Regions from separate parts of the Homo sapiens genome. Here region 2 is linked to region 1. The links come from fine-mapping of genetic effects on gene expression. A gene starts in region 1. The other region holds a variant in brackets. All regions are shown on one strand. Distances are from middle to middle.

Region 1 (9,640 bases):
CAGTAACAACTACTGGGTTAAGGGCCGGGCACGGTGGCTCATGCCTGTAATCCCAGCACTTTGGGAGGCCGAGGCGGGCATGGGGCTGATCATGAGGTCAAGAGATCGAGACCATCCTGGCCAACATGGTGAAACCCCATGTCTACTAAAAATACAAAAATTACCTGGGTATGGTGGCGTGCACCTGTAGTCCCAGCTACTCGGGAGGCTGAGGCAGGAGAATTGCTCGAACCTGGGAGGCGGAGGTTGCAATGAGCCGAGACCGTCCCACTGCACTCCAGCCTGGGTGACAGAGCAAGACTCCATCTTAAAAAAAAAAAAAAAAAAAAAAAGGAACTACTGGGTTCATGGAAATCACTAAATTATTGCTGACAAAGCTCTAGAGTTTCACATTCCAATTTGCACGTGGGAGAGATGCAAAATCTCACAGTAAATTAATAGCACAGCCAGGACTAAACAGCTTCCTTGGCTTACATTATGTTTCCCTTTTGATTTCAGTCTCTTTCCCACATGCAAATTGGAATCTGAAACTCCAGAGCTTTGTCAGCAATAAATTAGTGATTTTCATTAACCCAGTATTTCTCACCAACATTTCTGATTGTTGTACTCGGGGGGAAAAGGGTATGTGCCATTGGCATCTAGTAGGGAAAGGCCAGGGATGCTGCAAAACATCCTGTGATGCACAGGACACCTTCCTACCCCAACTACACATACACAAAGAATTATCCAGCCCAAAATGTCAACAGTGCCAGAGTTGAAAAAGCCTGGATTACACATCATGCAGAATGAACTACAGCTGTGACCTTCCTCCTTGTTCCTCCTCAAACGCCCTCTCAAGTATCTATTATTGCCCCAAAGCCAGGTGACTCACAGAAGTATGGGGAAGGATTAGGGAGAGGGTGACCCTCTCAGGTGGGGCCAGCTGCCAGCCTCAGAGGTCTAAGGGTAAAGGTAAAAGCAACTCTTGCCCTGGAGGGAGTTGGATACTTTGGGATCTATTGAGAAAAATATAATAGCTACATGGGACACAAGTCTGGAAATATATACATCAAAATATTACCAGTAATTATGTCTCTAAGTGGTGAAACTTTTAGTGACTACTTTCTTTTTGCTTCTCTGTACACTTTAAACTTTTCTATAAAGATTAGTTAACATAATTATTCAAAACTCTAAAAAACATTACAAACTATGCCACTTTCACTGACTGCATCCCTCCTAGCCCCAAACTGAACAGACTTTCACAGGGCAATAACATATCAAGGTGCTCTGATAATGAAGTCCACAGAAAATTTTCCCTATAACTGAGAATCAGGAAAGGCTCTGCTTCCTTCAAGGCCATTAACATTTGGGGGATCAATGAATGAATGAATGAATGAAGTTGCCATGTATGTTTTACTTTCAAAAGACAAGAACCATGTAACTGACCAAGTTTACCTTTCTAGAAACAAATTTGGGACTCAACTACAAAAATATAGGCCTGCAATGACCTATAAGGGAGCCGCTACACAGAGTGGCTATTGGAATATAAATTAATTAAATATAGCACATTTTCATAATCACAGAAAATTCTATTGGATAACACTGAAACACTTCATTCTTTTTTTCCCCTGGAATAGTTTCTTGTACTTATACTTTCTCTCATCTCAATTCCTGGCCATATTTATCTTCTATTTATTTGTTACTATTCTGTGATTTTGTTGCAAATGACCTTAATTCCTTTGTGGATCAATTTGGGGCATTGTACTTTGGAAATATCAGTGTGTATATATGTCACTGTTCCTGAGAGTTCAACCTTCATTTCTGACCATAAGGCAGATCTAGCAGCTCATGTAATGTAGCTATTTCCTCACAGCTCAAAGACGGAAGAGAGGCCGGGTGAAATGGCTCACGCCTGTAATCCCAGCACTTTGGGGAGGCCATGGTGGGTGGATTACTTGAGGTCAGGAGTTCGAGACCAACCTAGCCAACATGGCAAAACCCTGTCTCTACTAAAAGTATAAAAATTAGCTGGTCATGGTGGTGCGTGCCTGTAATCCCAGCTACTTAGGAAGCTGAGGAATGAGAATCACTTGAACCCAGGGGGCGGAGGTTGCAGTGAGCCAAGATGGCGCCACTGCACTCCAGCCTGGGCGACACAGTGAGACTCCATCTCAAAAAAAAAAAAAAAAGACTCAAGAGGACATTGTCAGGAACTAAGCTCCCCTGTCACAAAGGCACTATATTCAGTGTTTTTTTTTTTAAATACACAAAAAGGTATACACTGTCCATTAATGGAAAGTTTCACTATTTGATTAAAGCTTAATTTGAAGCTGAGTAATGCAATGTCTTTTTCAAATTCCAAAATACATGGCTATCAACTTATTTCTAAAATCTTAAATATATGATTTACCACAAAAAACAAATGGCCCAACCTGTTACTACTGATAAATATATGATCATGTCATCAGAGTCCTGGATACGCCAAAGAGAATCAGAAATGAAAATGCGCGCAGCTCCTGCACAGTGGGATTCCCTGTCAGCCCACGGTTCTGATGGAGTGTCGCCTCTACATAGAAGTCAGTGCAATTTTGAGTATTTTACCAGATTTTCAGTTCTAGAAAAAATGACTGGGAGTAATAAGCAGTGTAGATCAAAAACTAAATACAATTATAACAAAGATGAAAATTAATAGATGTGGCCCAAAGTGGCAAATCTTTGACTTTAATCACATGCTAACTGGATAGGCAGGGGGTACAAAGAATAAAAAAGTAAAGATCGGCCGGGCGCGGTGACTCATGCCACGCCTGTTATAATCCCAGCACTTTGGGAGGCCGAGGCGGGTGGATCACCTGAGGTCAGAAGAATTGCTTGAACCCAGCAGGTGGAAGTTGCAGTGAGCCGAGATCGCGCCACTGTACTCCAGCCTGGTGACAGGGCGAGGCTCTGTCTCAAAAAAAAAAAAAAAAAAAAATTACATATGAAATGTGGGAAAACACACTGAGAATTATTCCTAAAAAAGTTGAAGTATAATTAGAGACCCTATTGTAATTTTTAGCTCTCTGGCTACAGAATTTCCCTTCTGATACTTTGTCTAACATTTGACTTGTTTTTCTGGAATGCATCCCGTTAAGGGAAGGATGAGCATATTTATCAATACAATCTTTTAGGAAATAATTAGGAATATACCAATACCTTTATTTCCATAATTTTAATATCTTCTTGGGAATCGTACTATAGAAATTACATTAATGATGGAAAAACTTTCAGCACAGTATTGCTTCCTTTGTAGGTGGTGATGATGACAGCTAACATTTACTGAATCCTTCCCATGCTGAAAACCCTATTGTAAGCTATTTATGTTCGCTAAGTCACTTATTCTTCAGGGCTATCCTACTAAGTAAGCATTATGATTACCCCCACTTTTACAGGTGAGAAAATCGAGGCAACAAGAGGTTGGTTAACGTGCCCAAGATCAGATCGCACAGCGGTATAATAGGATGGAAAACTCCTATCACATAATGAACGTTAAGTGAAAAAAATTAGTATCCAAAACTGTAAGTCTGATGTCTCATTCTTTTTATAATTTAAGTAGTTTATAAATACCCTCATTATTAGCCATATTTCTGAGCACTTCATATGTAGAGTGCACTTTACAGAACACTGTCATGTAACCCTCACACCGTCTACGAAATAAGTGATAGTTTCCAGTTTCCAAAAACGAAAGCGGGGCTAGGAGAGGCCAAGTGCCTCGCGTGGCGCCTCAGGATTCGCCCCAGCGGAGCAGACCCCAGGGCATCCCAGGCGGGTCCCGGCCGAGCTAGCGGCCCTGCGGTGGCTACGCCCGGGCCCAGCCGCTCGCGCTCCTGGAGCCGCCGGACTACGCGGCACGCGGACGCCGAGCCTGCCCTCTTGGGTCTACATAAAAACCGAAACTACGGGCAGTCTTAACCGAAATGGAGACTTAATTTTTTAGACTGTCTTTTGTGTAGTTGAGAAAGCCCCTTGCCGGGACCCGCGCTGCTGGGCCTCCGACCGCGTCCTCACTCCGGGCCCGGGCGGGGCGGGGCGGGGCAGGCGGCGCCCAGGCTGCGTCCCGGCTCTGGCGGCCGCGGGCCCGGGCCTCCTGCGGGCCTGGGGCTTCGAGCTCAGGCCCTAGCGCTCTATGGAAGCCGCGCGCGACCCCCGCTCCCCTGCGCGCGACCCCCGTTCCCCGCGCGCGCCTCACCTGACGCGGGCACCGCTCTCCGTGCAGCCTCCGGGCGCCACCGGCTTTGCGGACCGGGGCGGGATCCCAGCTCCGATTGGCTGCCCGGCTGGGGGGCGGGGGCCCCGAAGCGGGGTGGCGGAGACCGGGAGGGGACCGGAGGCGGTGGGGAAGGGAGTGGACGGAAGGGGAGGGAGGGTCCCGGCCTCGTGCGGTCGCGCGTGAGATCCTGGCCTCTGTGCCCTGGGTCTGGCGCCTGGGGCCGTAAGAACCGTCCGTGCGCCTGCCCTGTTCTCTGCACCCAGCTTGGTGGCGAGGGGTGGGTGGTGGGTGCCGGCCGACCGGAGGGCGTATGGAAGTGGCTGGGCCCCCTCACGGTGTGCCTGGCCCCCTCACGGTGTGCCTGGCCCCGGCGTGGGGGGGGCAGGCCCGGGGGGTGTCGCATCTCTCTTATCCGCCCCCCACTCACCACGTAGAACCCACTGGATCCCATTGGTATTTAGTGGCCCCGGGCCGACTGAACTGGCGCCGAGGCTTACCTGAGTCCTTCCTGTAAATGTGAGGAGCGGAGGGAATATTCCAGGAGGCCGGTGTCTGCGATGTCCTGCTCTTGGGTAGCTAGGAAGTAGTGAACGTGGTCTAGGGAACTGCCTGGGCTCTTATCCACCTGGGAATGGGTTTGTTGGGGATCCTGATGTGGGAGAAGCCAGGGAGCTTCTAGCCTAGTGGGGCTAGGGGAGAAAACAGGGAGAGGGGTGGATTAGGCTGAAGGAAAGAGATCTCTGATCTTAAAGGCAGCGTTCTGACGGGTAAGGTTGACTGGCATTTTCCCCAACAAAGAGTTCTAGTACCGTATTCCATGACCTGACAAGCCTGTTTAAGTGAGGTTTTGTTGAGTGCAAAGAGAGAAGGCTTGGCTTTGAATTTTTATCTCCAGGCGGGACCTGCCTCCTGAACTCCATACTCCTCTATCCAGCTGCCTCCTTAATACCTCCTCTTGGATCTCTAAAATACATTTCAATCTCAACACATCCAAATCTGTGCCCCTGATCTCTTCCCCATAGCATCACCATCTCGATGGCAACTCCATCTTCCAGTTGTCAAGGCCAGAAACCTTGCTGTTTCAGAAACCTTTCTCTCACATCCCACCTCCAGGGCCCAAAAATTCTGTTGGTTGGATCTCCCTAGCATACCCAGAGCCTGACCACTTCTTACCTCTGCCTCCATCATCTGCTACCTGGGTCATGACAGTGGTCTCTTCCCTGATATCCCTGCAGCCTGTCCCCATAAAGCAGCCAGAGTGACCTTAAAAAAAGAAAGCCAGATCAAATTCCTCCTCTGCCCAAAACCTTCCCAGTGGTTTCCCAAACTCAGAGTAAAACCCAAAGCCCTGCCTGATCTGCTCCTCTGTTACCCCTACAACCTCATCTGCTACTGCCTCCCCACTGGCTCACTCTGCTCCAGTCACTCTGGCCTCCCTGCTATTTCTTATGCAAGGCAGACAGGGCTCTGCTGCAGGGTCTTTGCACAGGCTCCTGTCTGTTTGGAATGCTCGACTACTTCTCACTCTTCCTGATATTTTCTCAAATGCTGCCTCATTGAGAACTACCCTAACCACTCCATTTGAAATTGCCACCTGCCCCACTCCTGAATGACTTATTTCTTTAGCTCCTGACTGAATTTGTTTATTTAGCTTATTGTTTGTTATCTGTCTCTTCCATCCACCCCTCCCTGCTGCTGCCCCTTGGGTCATGATATGTCCTTTCTCGGAAAAATAACTGCCACTGATGAGGTACCATATTTTCACTGGCAAGGCCTAGGACATAAGCCAAACTCTGGGGTCTGATTGTGCAGTCACTTTAAATAAACCACAAGAGAAAAGAGTGATTCCCCAAAAGGACATGCTGAGTGCTGCTGCTAGGAGAAGGGATGCTGGCTAGGCAAAACCACAGATGTTCACTTGCTGAGTCAGACCAGTACACCCAGAGGAGCTTTGGGAAAGCCTGTGAGAGGGGCCCTCCATGTCCTTGAGAGCAGAATTTAAAGATGAGACCTCTAACCCCCTCACTTTCTTGTAATGATGTGTTATGAATGCATTGATTTATTTATCTTATCCTTCTAAAGTCTAGTTTTGTATTCAGTTTCTACTTTTTTGAGTAAGAGCTTCCCATTCTACAAAGTAGTGACTCTCTTCAACCTGAAGAACTTTGTGGGAGGTTGGGGGGACAGTAAGACTGCTGTAGGCCACAAGTGACAGAAACCCCACCCAAACAGATTAACAGTTAGGAGGTGTATTAAGGCTCCAGCTCCATTTCTGTGTCATTCTCTTAGCTCTTTTTCTCCTATGTGTAACAAGATATGAAAGTATAGATTTTGATTAGGACAACAAGATATACTAATGTGAAATTCTAGGAAGAGATCTCCAAAGATGTAAGAAAGAATCAGGCGGGAGCCACCTGTAATCGCAACACTTTGGGAGGCCCAGGCAGGCAGGTCGCAGCCTGGGCAACATGGTAAGACCCCGTCTCTACTAAAAATACAAAAATTAGCCAGGTATGGTGGCATATGCCTATACTCCCAGCTACTCTGGGAGGGAGGCTGAGGCATGAGAATCACTTGAACCCGGGAGACAGAGGTTGCAGTGAGCCAAGATAGCACTACTGCACTACAGCCTGGGAGACAAAGTGAGACTCCATCTAAAAAAAAAAAAATTAAAAAAATAATAAAAGTAAAAAATAAAATAAAATAAATAAATAAAAAGAAGGAATTGGAGAGTGGAAGGAGGGTTTGGTGAAGAAATCTCTGACAGAGGCCGGGTGCGGTGGCTTAATGCCTGTAATCCCAGCACTTTGGGAGGCCGAGGCAGGCAGATCACTTGAGGTCAGGAATTTGAGATCAGCCTGGGCAACATGGTGAAACCCCGTTTCCATTAGAAATACAAAAATTAGCCAGGCACAGTGGAGCGTACCTGTAGTTCCAGTTATTCAGGAGGCTGATGCAGGAGAATCGCTTGAATCTGAGAGGCAGAGGTTATAGTGAGCTGGGATCTCCCCACCTCACTCCAGCCTGGGCGACAGAATGAGACTCCGTCTCAAAAAAAGAAAAAAAGGGGCAGGCGCGGTGGCTCACACCTGTAATCCCAGCACTTTGGGAGGCCGAGGTGGGCAGATCACCTGAGGTCAGGAGTTCAGGACCAGCCTGGCCAATGTGGTGAAACCCCGTCTCTACTAAAAATACAAATAAAAAAAAAAAATTTAGCCAGGCATGGTGGTACGTGCCCATAATCCCAGCTACTCGGGAGGTTGAGGCAGGAGAATTGCTTGAACCTGGGAGGCAGAGGTTGCAGTGAGCCAAGATCATGCCATTGCACTGCAGCCTGGGCGACGAGTGAGACTCTGTATCAAAGAAAAAGAAAAGGCCAGGCGCAGTGGCTCACACTTGTAATCCCAGCACTTTGGGAGGCCGAGGCGGGCAGATCACGAGATCAGGAGATCGAGACCATCCTGGCTAACACGGAGAAACCCCGTCTCTACTAAAAATACAAAAAATTAGTCAGACGTAGTGGGGGGCGCCTGTAGTCCCAGCTACTCGGGAGGCTGAGGCAGGAGAATGGCGTGAACCCGGGAGGCGGAGCTTGCAGTGAGCTCCAGCCTGGGCAACAGAGCGAGACTCCGTCTCAAAAAAAAAAAAAAAGAAAAAAAGAAAAAAGAAATCTCTGACAGAGCTTTTGCTGTGCTGTGAGTTTACTTCCTCCCCACTGAGGGAAGCTTCCGCAGCCCATTTCCTTCACTTCATGCCTACAGGCTTCCAGCCATTTGGGGAGCTTGTTAGGTATGTTGGTGCACATGGAGACTCTCTGGTCACTTACCTCCCACCTGAAAAAGGCATGCAGTGGTCGGCTGTCAGCCCACACATGCCGAGGGGTCCCAAGATGCATTTGTGTTTCCCATGGATCAGATATGGGCCATGCAGGAGACAGTGCCCTTGGATCCAGTCCAGTAAGGCTGCCTGGAAGGGCAGGAAGCTGGCGGTGAATGCCAGATATGTAGAGGTGAGGAAGAAGTCACAGTACATGTACCCACAGGGAGAACTGCTGGAGAGAGGTCTGGCATGGTCATCTCCAAAGAGCTGATGAACACTACAGTCCAAAAAATGACATCATGTATTGTCATAGTCCATTCAGGCTACTATAACAAATACCTTGGACTGGGTAATTTATAAACAGCAGAAATTTATGGCTCTTAGTTCTAGGGGCCGGGAAGTCTAAGACCAAGGTGCTAGGAGATTCAGTGTCTGGTGAGGGCTCAGTCTGCTTCAAAGATGGTGCCTTCTCATGCATCCTACATGGTGCAAGGGGCAAGCCAGCTCCCTTCAACTTTTTTTTTTTTTTTTTTTTTCTGAGACGGTGTCTCACCCTGTCACCCAGGCTGGAGTGCAGTGGCTCATCTCAGCTCACTGCAGCCTCTGCCTCCCGTGGAACCTCCTGAGTAGCTAGGATTATAGGTGCGTGCCACCACACCCAGCTAATTTTTAAATTTTTTTGTAGAGACAAGCCCTTGCTATACTCCCTGCGCTAGTCTGAAACTCGTGCACTCAAGAGGTCCTCTGCCTTGACCTCCCAAAGTGCTGAGGTTACAGGGGTGAGCCACCACACCCAACCAAGATGTTGCAGTTTTGAAAGGATCTCAGGCAGAAGCAGGACAGTGCAGTATTCAGCGTGCATTAGCCTATTTATGAAATCCTCTGAGATACCACCAGGGGAGGGGGCCACTGAGTAAGGTTCTGCAAGTACAGGTAGAAATAATTATCCAGAAAAAAAAAAGGAGAATAAATCTAAATGTGAACTTATTTATAAGTACAGGTGAGGGAGGTTTGAAAACATGGTGGCACATGCCTGTAATCCCAGGACTTGGGAGGCTGAGGCAGGAGAATTGCTTGAAACTGGGAGGTGGAGGTTGCAGTGAGCTGAGGTCGCACCATTGCACTCCAGTCTGGGCAAAAAGAGTGAAACTTTGTCTCAAAAAAAAAAAAAAAAAAAAGATTTGGAGGAACTCCTCCTTCCTCAGAAAAGACTGCCCAGGAAAATCTTCCTTGTTTTTGAAAAAGGAAGCAGTGATCTAAAATGCTATTTAAAATGTTTACCAGAAAAATGATTCAACTATCTGTTTCATCATTTACCTCTCCACCCCTATTGGCTTCCTCTGTAATCTGCAGTGGGTTTTTTTAATTGACTCCTTTTGTTGACCAGTATTTTATTTTTCTTCTGCAAAATGTGCTAACTCATGCCAATTACCCACAGCTTTAGGATGGCACACCCACATTTTTTCCCTCCACCTGGGTGATAGACTCACCAAGAGTCAGGGTAGTGAATGGACTACCCTGAGTGGAATTGTGTCCCCCCAAAAAAGATACATTGAAGTCCTAACCTTTAGTTCCTCAGAATGTGACTTTGTGAAG
Region 2 (9,640 bases), 37 kb before region 1:
AAAAATTACCCAGGTGTGGTGGTGGGCACCTGTAAGCCCACCTTCTTGGGAGGCTGAGGCAGGAGAATCACTAGAACCTGGGAGGCAGAAATTGCAGTGGGCCAAGATTGCATCACTGCACTCCAGCCTGGGCGACAGAGTGAGACTCCGTTTCAAAAAGAAAAAGAAAAAAAGAGAAATGAATGAAACGAAAACCTGAGAAATGAAATGAAAATTTAAGAGAACAAGATGGTATCTACCTGTGTCCAAAGGCAAGATGAGATCAGGGATGTGTCTGTGGGCCAGGAGACAGTTAGCTACTGTTCTAGACAGGAGGAGGCAGTGCAGCATAAAAATCTAACAGAGTAAGAACGTGCCCAGGCTTGGTGGCTCATGCCTATAATCCCAGCACTTTGGGAGGCCAAGGCAAGTGGATTGCCTAAGCTCAGGAGTTTGAGACCAGCCTGGGCAACATGGCAAAACCTGGCCTCTACAAAAAATACAAAAAATTAGCTAGGTGTGGTGGCATGCACCTGTGGTCCCAGCTACTTGGGAGGCTGAGCTGGGAAGATCACTTGAACCTGGGAGGTGGAGGTTGCAGTTAGCCAAGATCGTACCAGTGCACTGCAGCCCATCTCAAAAAATAAAAATAAAAATAAAATAAAATAAATTTTGGATTATAAAAGAAAGCTGTTAACAATTTTTTTGCTATATAAAATTTTTTCGCTCTATAAAAATTTTTTCATTTCTAGGCCAAAAGCTTCCTAAAACACCAGAACTATTTTGTGATTAAGTACAAAGTGTGGTTATGATCTACAGTTTCACTGAAACAGACAGAAATCTGGGTCAGTGGGAGATGCTCCTGGGACGGTTGCCTTTGTCTAACCCAGCATCACAGCAAATACTGCCAAATGCTCTGGGCTTGACCTGCACCTCAGGAGCAAGGAGGATGTCTGTCGCAGGAGTCTCCAGAAATGTCAGGTGTGTGGGAGGATGGGGTCCTTCCCACCCACTCCTTCAGACGTGAATGTGGCAAAAGGAACTTCTTGTGATAAGTAGAAGCTTTCTGGCACAAAATGGCTTTGCAACAACTAAATGGCACAAAATGCTTTGCAATAAGTACAAGCTTTTCTCCTCACAGGTAGTTTCGCCCACTGCCCCCCACCCCACCGTGAAACTCTGGGGAACATGTTATATTTTCCCCAGCACTATGTAACAGTCTCTGTGTTTCCACATCCATGGTTATTAAAGAAACTATGTATTTTCCAGCTGTGTCTTTTGTTGTTTTCCTGTCGTTCACTCAATGCCTGATTGTGATAAACACACATGGTAACCACAGTACACACACACATCCGTATCCATATATTCCCAGGTCTGTTCACTGAAAGGGCTTGCAGAGATAGCCCAAAGCCATAAGCACAAGCAGTGTCCAAATCTTGCCATCAAAACGTTATTAGCCATTGGAGAACTGACTAATTCCAAGGCTGAGGCAGAGAAAGTACAAGATGAGCCTTAACCACTTTGTGCCAGAAAGCAAGAATTCAAAGAATAATGGAAACATAACAAAATGACAAGGGAGCTGGCAGGAAGAGGTTCCCCACTGAGCAAATTTGGAACAATGTGGACATCAATATGAATAATAAAAAGTAACAACAGCACTGAATAGAAAAACAAAACAAAGCTATGAGTTTCTACTGATATAAAATAATAAATGAATATCAGACAGTGTGATGAGAATGGATATTTAACTAGTTATAAACTACCTTCTCACAAAATAATCACTGATTACAAAGGGAAAAAAAGTAACTTTCAGTGGAAAAGCCCGTCAGACACCACCTAATGAAGTGATATCATTAGTAATTAGATGAACTGATATTGGATGTTACCTGACAGAACACAATGTGAAAAACAGCATCGTTTCCTTTTTTTTTTTTTTTTTTTTTTTTTTTTTGTGAGATGGGGAGTCTCCCTCTGTCACCCAGGCTGGAGTATAGTGGTGCGATCTCGTCTCACTGCAAACTGTGCCTCCCGGGTTCAAGAAATTCTCCTGCCTCAGCCTCCCGAGTAGCTGGAATTACAGGTGCCCACATCATGCCTGGCTAATTTTTTTGATATTTTCAGTAGAGACGGGGTTTCACAGTGTAGGCCAGGCTGGTTTTGAACTCCTGACCTCAAGTAATCTGCCTGCCTTGGCCTCCCAAAGTGCTAGGATTACAGGTGTGAGCCACCATGCCTGGCCACTTGCATACTATTTCTGTGAAAGATGCATACCCCAAATCTAATCATGAAGAAACATCAGATATATTCAAATTTAGGGACATTTTACACAATAACTAACTGTAATATTCATAATTGTCAAGAAAAGATGGAGGAACTGTCCAGAATGAAGGACACTAAAAGTGACATGTCAATAAAAGATAATACATGATTTTGAACTCAGTCATTTTGCCATAAAGAATGTTATTGGGACAACTGGTGAAATTTGAATGAGGTTTGAGGATTAGATTGTTGTAATGTACCAATGCCAATTTCCAGATTTTGATGGTTGTATGCGGTTACATGCATACCTCAGAGATCCTGCAGGTTTCATTCCAGACCACCACAATAAAGTGAATATTGCAATAAAGGGAGTCACATGAATATTTTAGTTTCCCGGTTCATACACAAGTTATGTTTATACTATATTGTAGTTTGTTAAGTATGTGATAACACTATGTTTAGGAAAACAACGTACGTACCTTAATTTAAAAATACGTTATTGAGCTGGGCATGTTGGCCCATGCCTGTAATTCCAGCACTTTGGGAGGCTCAGGCAGGCGGATCACTTGAGGCCAGGAGTTCAAGACCAGCCTGGCCAACATGGCGAAACCCCATCTCTGCTAAAAATACAAAAATTAGCTGTGTGTGGTGGTGTGCACCTATAATCCCAGTTACTCAGGTGGCTGAGGCACAAGAATCACTTGAACCCAGGAGGCGGAGGTTTGCGCCACTGCGTTCAAGCCTAGGTAACAGGGCGAGACTGTCTTAAAAAACCAAAAAACAAAAACAAACAAAAAATGCTACCATCTGATCCTCCATCTTTTTGCTGAAGGAAGGTCTTGCTTCCATGTTGATGGCTGCTGACTGATGCTGGTGGTTACTGACGGTGGCTGTGGATTTGATTTGCATTTTCTATAAGGATTAGTGGTATTGAGCATCTTTTCATATGATTGTTTGCCGTCTGAATAACTTCTTCAGAAAAATGTCTATCCAAGTCCTTTGCCCATTTTAAAATCAGTTTATTTGGTTTGTTTGTTGTTGAGTTGTAGAGTTCTTTAGACATTCTGGATATTGATCTCTTATCAAAGATAAGATTTGCAGATATCTTCACCCATTACATAGACTGCTTTTTCACTCAGTTGATTGCTTCCTTTGAGGCACAGAAGGTTTTAAGTTTGATTAGTCCATTTGTCTGTTTTTTGCTTTTTTTGCCTGTGTTTTTGATGTCGTATGTAAGACATTATTGCCAAATCCAATATCTTGATGCTTTCCCATGTTTTCTTCTAACAATATTACAGTTTTAGGTCTTAAATTTAGTTCTTTAATCCATTTGAGTGAATTTTTTATATGGTGTAAGGTAAGTGTCCAACTTCATTCTTTTGCATGTGGATATCCTGTTTTCCTGGGACCACTTTTTGAAGAGACTGAAACACTTGGTAGAATTCTCCAGTGAAGCCATCTGGTTTTAGGCTTTTCTTTATTGGGAGGTGTTTAATTACTGGTTCAATCTCCTTACTAGTTATAAATCTGTTCAGATTTTTGTTTCTTCATGATTCAGTCTTAGTAGGTTATATGCTACTAGGTATTTATCCCTTTCTAGATTATCCGATTGTTGGAGTATAACAATTGTATAAGTGTTCATTGTAGTCTCATATAATCCTTTTTATTTCAGCAGCATTTGTTGTAATGTCTCCTCTTTCACTTCTGACTTTAGTTTGAGTCTTTACTCTTTTTTTCTTTTCTTTTCTTTTCTTTTTTTTTTTTTTTTGTGAGACAGAGTCTCGCTCTGTTGCCCAGGATGGAGTACAGTGGTGCAATCTCGGCTCACCACAACCTCCCCTCAGCACAACCTCCACCTCCTGGGTTCAAGTGATTCTCCTG[T/C]CTCAGCCTCCCGAGTAGCTGGGACTATAGGCATGTGCCACCATGCCTGGCTAATTTTTGTATTTTTAGTAGAGATGGGGTTGCACTATTTTGGCCAGGCAGGTCTTGGACTCTTGACCTTGTGATCTGTCCTCCTTGGCCTCCCAAAATGCTGGGATTACAGGCGTGAGCCACTGCACCCGGCCGACTCTTTTTTTTCTTAATCTGCTAAAATTCTGTCAATTTTATGGATTTTTTTCAAAAAAACTTGGTTTTGTTGATTTTTTTCTATTGCTTTTCTACTCTCTATTTTATTTATGTTCTAATCTTTACTTGCTTTTTTCTGCTAATTTTCGATTGAGTTTGCTCTTCTTTTCCTAGTCCCTTGAAATGTAAAGTTAGGATGTTGAATTGAGATCTTTCTTCTTGTTTAATGTAAGCATTTACAACTATCCACTTCTCTCTTAGTACTGCTTTCATTACATCTTGTCAGTTTTGTATTGTTTTGTTTTGTTTGAGCAGAGTCTCACTCCATCGCCCAGGCTGGAGTGCAGTGGTGCGATCTCCCTCACTGCAACCTCTGCCTCCTGGGTTTAAGCAATTCTCCTGCCTCAGCCTCCCCAGTAGCTGGGACTATATGTGCGCGCCACCACACCTGGCTAATTTTTGTATTTTTAGTAGAGATGGGGTTTCACCATGTTGGCTAGGCTGGTCTTGAAATCCTGACCTCAGGTGATTCGCCCGCCTCAGCCTCCCAAAGTGCTGGGATTACAGGCACAATCTATTTTTATTATTTATTTATGTATGTATTTAATTTCTGAGATGGAGTCTCACTGTGTCGCCCAGGCTAAAGTGCAATGCCACAATCTTGGCTCACTGCAACCTCCACCTCCTGGGTTCAAGCGATTCTCGTGCCTTAGCCTCTGGAGTAGCTGGGATTACAGGCACGTGCCACCAGGCCCAGCTAATTTTTGTATTATTAGTAGAGACGGAGTTTCACCATGTTGCCCAGGCTCCTCTTGAAATCCTGACTTCAGGTGATCCACCAGCCTCGGCTTCCCAAAGTGCTGGGATGACAGGCATGAGCCACCACACCCGACTGCATAATCTATTTTAAACTGCTAACAACTTAACTCAATCACATACAAAATTCTACTCCTTTATATCTCTGACCCCCCATTTTGCTATTAATGTTACCAATTACATCTTTTTATACTATACATCCATTAACATAGTTTGTATTTTTTTGTCTTTTAAATTCTATGCCAGGATTTAAAGTGATATTTATTTATTTAGAGATAGAGTTTCATGGTGTTACCCAGGCTGGAGTGCAGTGGCACCATCTCAGCTCACTGCAACCTCCGCCTCCCAGGTTCAAGCAATTCTGCTGCCTCAGCCTCCTGAGTAGCTGGGACTACAGGCAAGCGCCACCACGCCCAGCTAATTTTTTTATTTTTAGTAGAGATGGGGTTTCACCATGTTGGCCAGGATGGTCTTGAACTCCTGACCTCAAATGATCTGCTTGCCTCGGCCTCCCCAAGTCCTGGGATTACAGGCTTGAGCCACCGTGCCTGGCCTAAAGTGATTTATATGTCAACATTACAATACTACGGAAGTCTGTATTTGTCTATATATTTACCTTTACCAGAGAGCAATATTTTTGTGTTGCTGTCTAGTGTTTTCACTTTAACTTGAAAGACTTCCTTTAGCATTTCCTGTAGGGCAGGTCTAGTAGTGATCAACTCACTTGGTTTTTGTTTGTCTGGGTAGGTCTTTTAAAGAATTTTTATTTTTATTTTTGAGACAGGGTCTCACTCTGTTGCCCAGACTAGAGTGCAGTGGCCCGATCATGGTTCAGTGCAGCCTCAACCTCCTAAGGTTCAGGTGAACTTCCAAGTAGCTGGGACTACCGGTATGCACCACCACACCCAGTTAATTTTTGTATTTTCAGTAGAGATGGGGTTTCACCATGTTGCCCAGGCTGGTCTCAAACTCCTGGGCTCAAATAATCTATCCATCAGAGCCTCCTAAAGTGCTGGGATTACAGGTGTGAGCCACTGTGCCCAGCTGAGTCTTTTTTTTTTTTTCTTGTAATTAAAAATTTTGTATGCCGGGCACGGTCACTCATGCCTGTAATCCCAGCACTTTGGGAGGCCGAGGTGGGTGGATCGCGAGGTCAGGAGTTTGAGACCATTGTGTCCAACATCGTGAAACCCCATCTCTACTAAAAATACAAAAATTAGCTGGGCATGGTGGTGGGCGCCTGTAATCCTAGCTACTCAGGAGGCTGAGGAAGGAGAATCCCTTGAACCCAGGAGGCGGAGGTTGCAGTGAGCTGAGATGGTGCCATTGAACTCCAGCCTGGGTGACACAGCAAGACTCTGTACCCCACCAAAAAAAAAAAAAAAAAAGTTGTAAAAGATTTTTGTAGAAACAGGGTCTCATTATGTTGCCCAGGGTTGTCCCAAGCTCCTTGGCCTCCCAAAGTGCTGGGCTGACAGGGCATGAGCCACTGCGTCTGGCCTGGGAAAGTCTTAATTTCTCCCTTCTGGAGGGTGGTATGGCTTAGGGGAACAAATGTGAACTTAAGAGCCCTGTAGGATTTGATTAAAATCTCTACCTCCCACTTAGTAGTCATGTTATTAGCTTTGTGACCTGGCACAAATTAACTTCTTTGAGCCATATTTTTCTATACAGCATCTAGAGAAAATATATACCTCCAAGGGATTCTAGAAGAATTAAGCAAAATAACATATGAAGTGCTTAGCAGAGTTTCCAAGTTCCTAGCATATACTAAATATTTAATAAATGGTTATTCCTGTTTAGAAACAACAAAAACTACAAACTATGCAAATAAGACAATCAGTTTCTCTGATTTGAGCATTTTTAGGATATCCCAGCATTTAGCAATATAAGTATCACATGAATAAAGCCAAAATAATATCATGACATAAGCATAGGTGAAAACTAATTCATATTTTTTCCTTAGAGTGAGTAAAATAAGCTGATAAGCTTTGACCAAAAGTTTGCAAATTCCCACCCATCCTTCTGCCCTCCACTATCTGTGTTTACAGTGTGGGGGTGAGGAGGCAGTTGGGAGCCCACAGTGCCAGTGTAGCCAGGAGGAGGAGATATCTGAAATGGGGTTAAGTTTTAAAGGCATAAAGATGATATCACAGAAATCCTGGAGGCAGAAACTCTTGGTAAGATACATTACCTTTCTGCTCAGCCAGCTCCCACAGTTCCTGAGCGGCCGCCAATGACAGTGTCATGGGGTATTCCACAAGGACGTGCTTGCCAGCATTAAGGAACTGCCTTTGGTAAACGAGACAAATACAGAGAAAGAACACTTCGAATAAGCTTCACTGAAATGCTCTGCATAATAGAGAACAGAATGTTATAAAGGCATGAGAGTTTCTGTGTGTGAATGTGTCATGACTGGGGGTAGGAGTCAGTGCCACGGGATATGGAGGAAGAACTGTATCCCACATTGTTTTCTACTATCCTGTGACAGATCAACTTTCTGGTTATGTGTTAATTTGAACATTCAACCATTCATTTATTCAACTAAGTACTATTTACCAATTACTGTGGAGGAGAAATAAAGACACATTAACAAATAAATTTCCTATCACCACATGGTAGCTATAAAGGCTACAAAACCCACAGCGGCTAGCTTTGCCTGAGGCAGTCTGAAAAGATTTCACTAAGGACCTATGAACTGGGTCTCAAAGTATGAGCAGACATTTTCCAGGTGCAACATGTGAGTATATTTCACTGTGAGCAGCGTATGCAGGGGCTTGGGCATTTGTGGGGCTTTGTTCAATCGGCAAACTTCAGTGTGGCAGGGGAGTGGACTACAGGCCGTGGAGGATAATAACGTTGGAAAAGTAGCTGGGGGCCTGACTGTGAAGGACCTACAATTCTGTGCTCAGCAGTTCAGATTTCATTCTGTGGATACCAGAGTACAAATATTTATAAGCATGGGACTTATGTCAGAATCACTTTTCTTAAGGAAATACACTCTGGTGCCAGAAAAGGTTAAGGAAAGCCAAGGAGAGGTGTTTTTGTCTACTCTAGAGCTAGACTGATAAAGAGGAAGCATCTTACCCGTGGGAAACAGCATGGTGGGAGCAGCTGTAAGAACCTAGAAGGAAGCTAGACTGAGGAAGGCAGCTGGCACTTCCCTGTTAGCTGCCAGGTCCTGAGGGTTAAAGGAACTCAACCGTTATTTTATGACATTGAAAGCACAAAGGAGAAAACGTTGGAAGCTGATCCAAACTGAGAAGGGAGTATGATAATTTGCCAAGGATGCCGGCTCCACATCCTAAACTGTCTGGTGAGAAGAAGGAGGCCACTACTGTTGAAAACTACTCTCGATGGGTTTTTACAGAGAAATAAAACACTTTAATTCTGAATGTTTCTAATGTTTCAAATTACACATACTAAATATTAATTTTACTATTTTTCACTTCCTTATATATTTATAACCAGCAATAAGAATTTCTTAATGTTTTGACACTTCTGTGATTGGTCACAGAGCAATTGTAATTTTCTCACTGGCTCTTCTGACTCCTTTGCAGGGTGTTTTAGCTTGCTTGCTCATTTTTGCAGTACTGCACTGCTGTGTAAGGCAAGGACTGCCTGTGTGGAAAACCCACCTGATGTAGTCCTCATGGCTGGAGCTCTCACTGCAGATATAGGCGACCTCCACCTCTTGGCTGGAAAGAGCATCCTCCAAAGAAATCTGCTGGACTCCATCAATGCTCCCGAGCTCCCTTCTATTTCAGAGTAACAGAGAAATGGAACTCAATGGTAGACAGAAGAAAGGAGCACCATCCTTCTCCCCTCCTCCCGACAGGTCCTGGTGATCTGCTGCCAGAAATGAAGAAATGAGTTTCTTCTCTCCCACTTCCAGGCTATTTTCCATTGTGGAGTGAGAAAAATAGCCTCAGAGTTCAAGTCAGGGGATCTGGCATTGAGTGCCAACAGTACCATTCACAGCGTGTATGACCTGGGAGAGTCTTGAATTACTTCATCTCCAAAACAAAAGAAACAGCTGGGCGCGGTGGCTCAAGCCTATAATCCCAGCACTTTGGGAGGCCGAGGTGGGTGGATCACTTGAGGTCAGGAGTTCAAGACCAGCCTGGCCAACATGGTGAAAACCTGTATCTACAAAAAATACAAAAGTTAGCCAAATGTGGTGGTGGGCGCCTGTAATCCCAGCTACCTGGGAGGCTGAGGCAGGAGAATCACTTGAATCCGGGAGATGGAGGTTGCAGTGAGCCGAGATTGCACCACAGCACTCCAGCCTGGGTGACAGAGCAAGACTCCTCAAAAATAAAATAACATAAAAATAAAAGGAACAATCTACTTTTATCTCATGAGAAGTGATCTCTATGGTCACTTCCAGTTCCAAGCACTTGGCCAAACATTGTGACTACCAAACCTAATCCAAATCCAATACGTTAACACATTTAGGGTGCAAACTGGCATGCGACTTCGAGCTACTTTATAGCTAAGCTAACGAAGCCCAGTAGTA

The links. PIP is the estimated chance that this variant, and not a neighbour inherited with it, causes the effect.
Region 2: its variant is the best candidate, but not a certain one, in a credible set for the expression of BLVRA in cerebellar hemisphere (GTEx, PIP 0.87).

The regions. Positions count from the first base shown.
Region 1 is chr7:43,753,299-43,762,938 of GRCh38, reverse strand. It overlaps BLVRA (biliverdin reductase A), which reads right to left and starts at 4,259. Exons shown (of 8, transcript NM_000712.4): 1 at 4,205-4,259. It also overlaps the pseudogene LOC107986727. RefSeq lists silencers at 3,835-4,154, 4,165-4,554 and a cis regulatory region at 5,576-6,343.
Region 2 is chr7:43,790,488-43,800,127 of GRCh38, reverse strand. BLVRA (biliverdin reductase A) reads right to left here. Exons shown (of 8, transcript NM_000712.4): 4 at 8,760-8,879; 5 at 7,316-7,413. Among named protein-coding and RNA genes, the nearest start is that of BLVRA, 37 kb to the right of the region's middle. The variant T/C (reference allele first, on the strand shown) is at 4,120.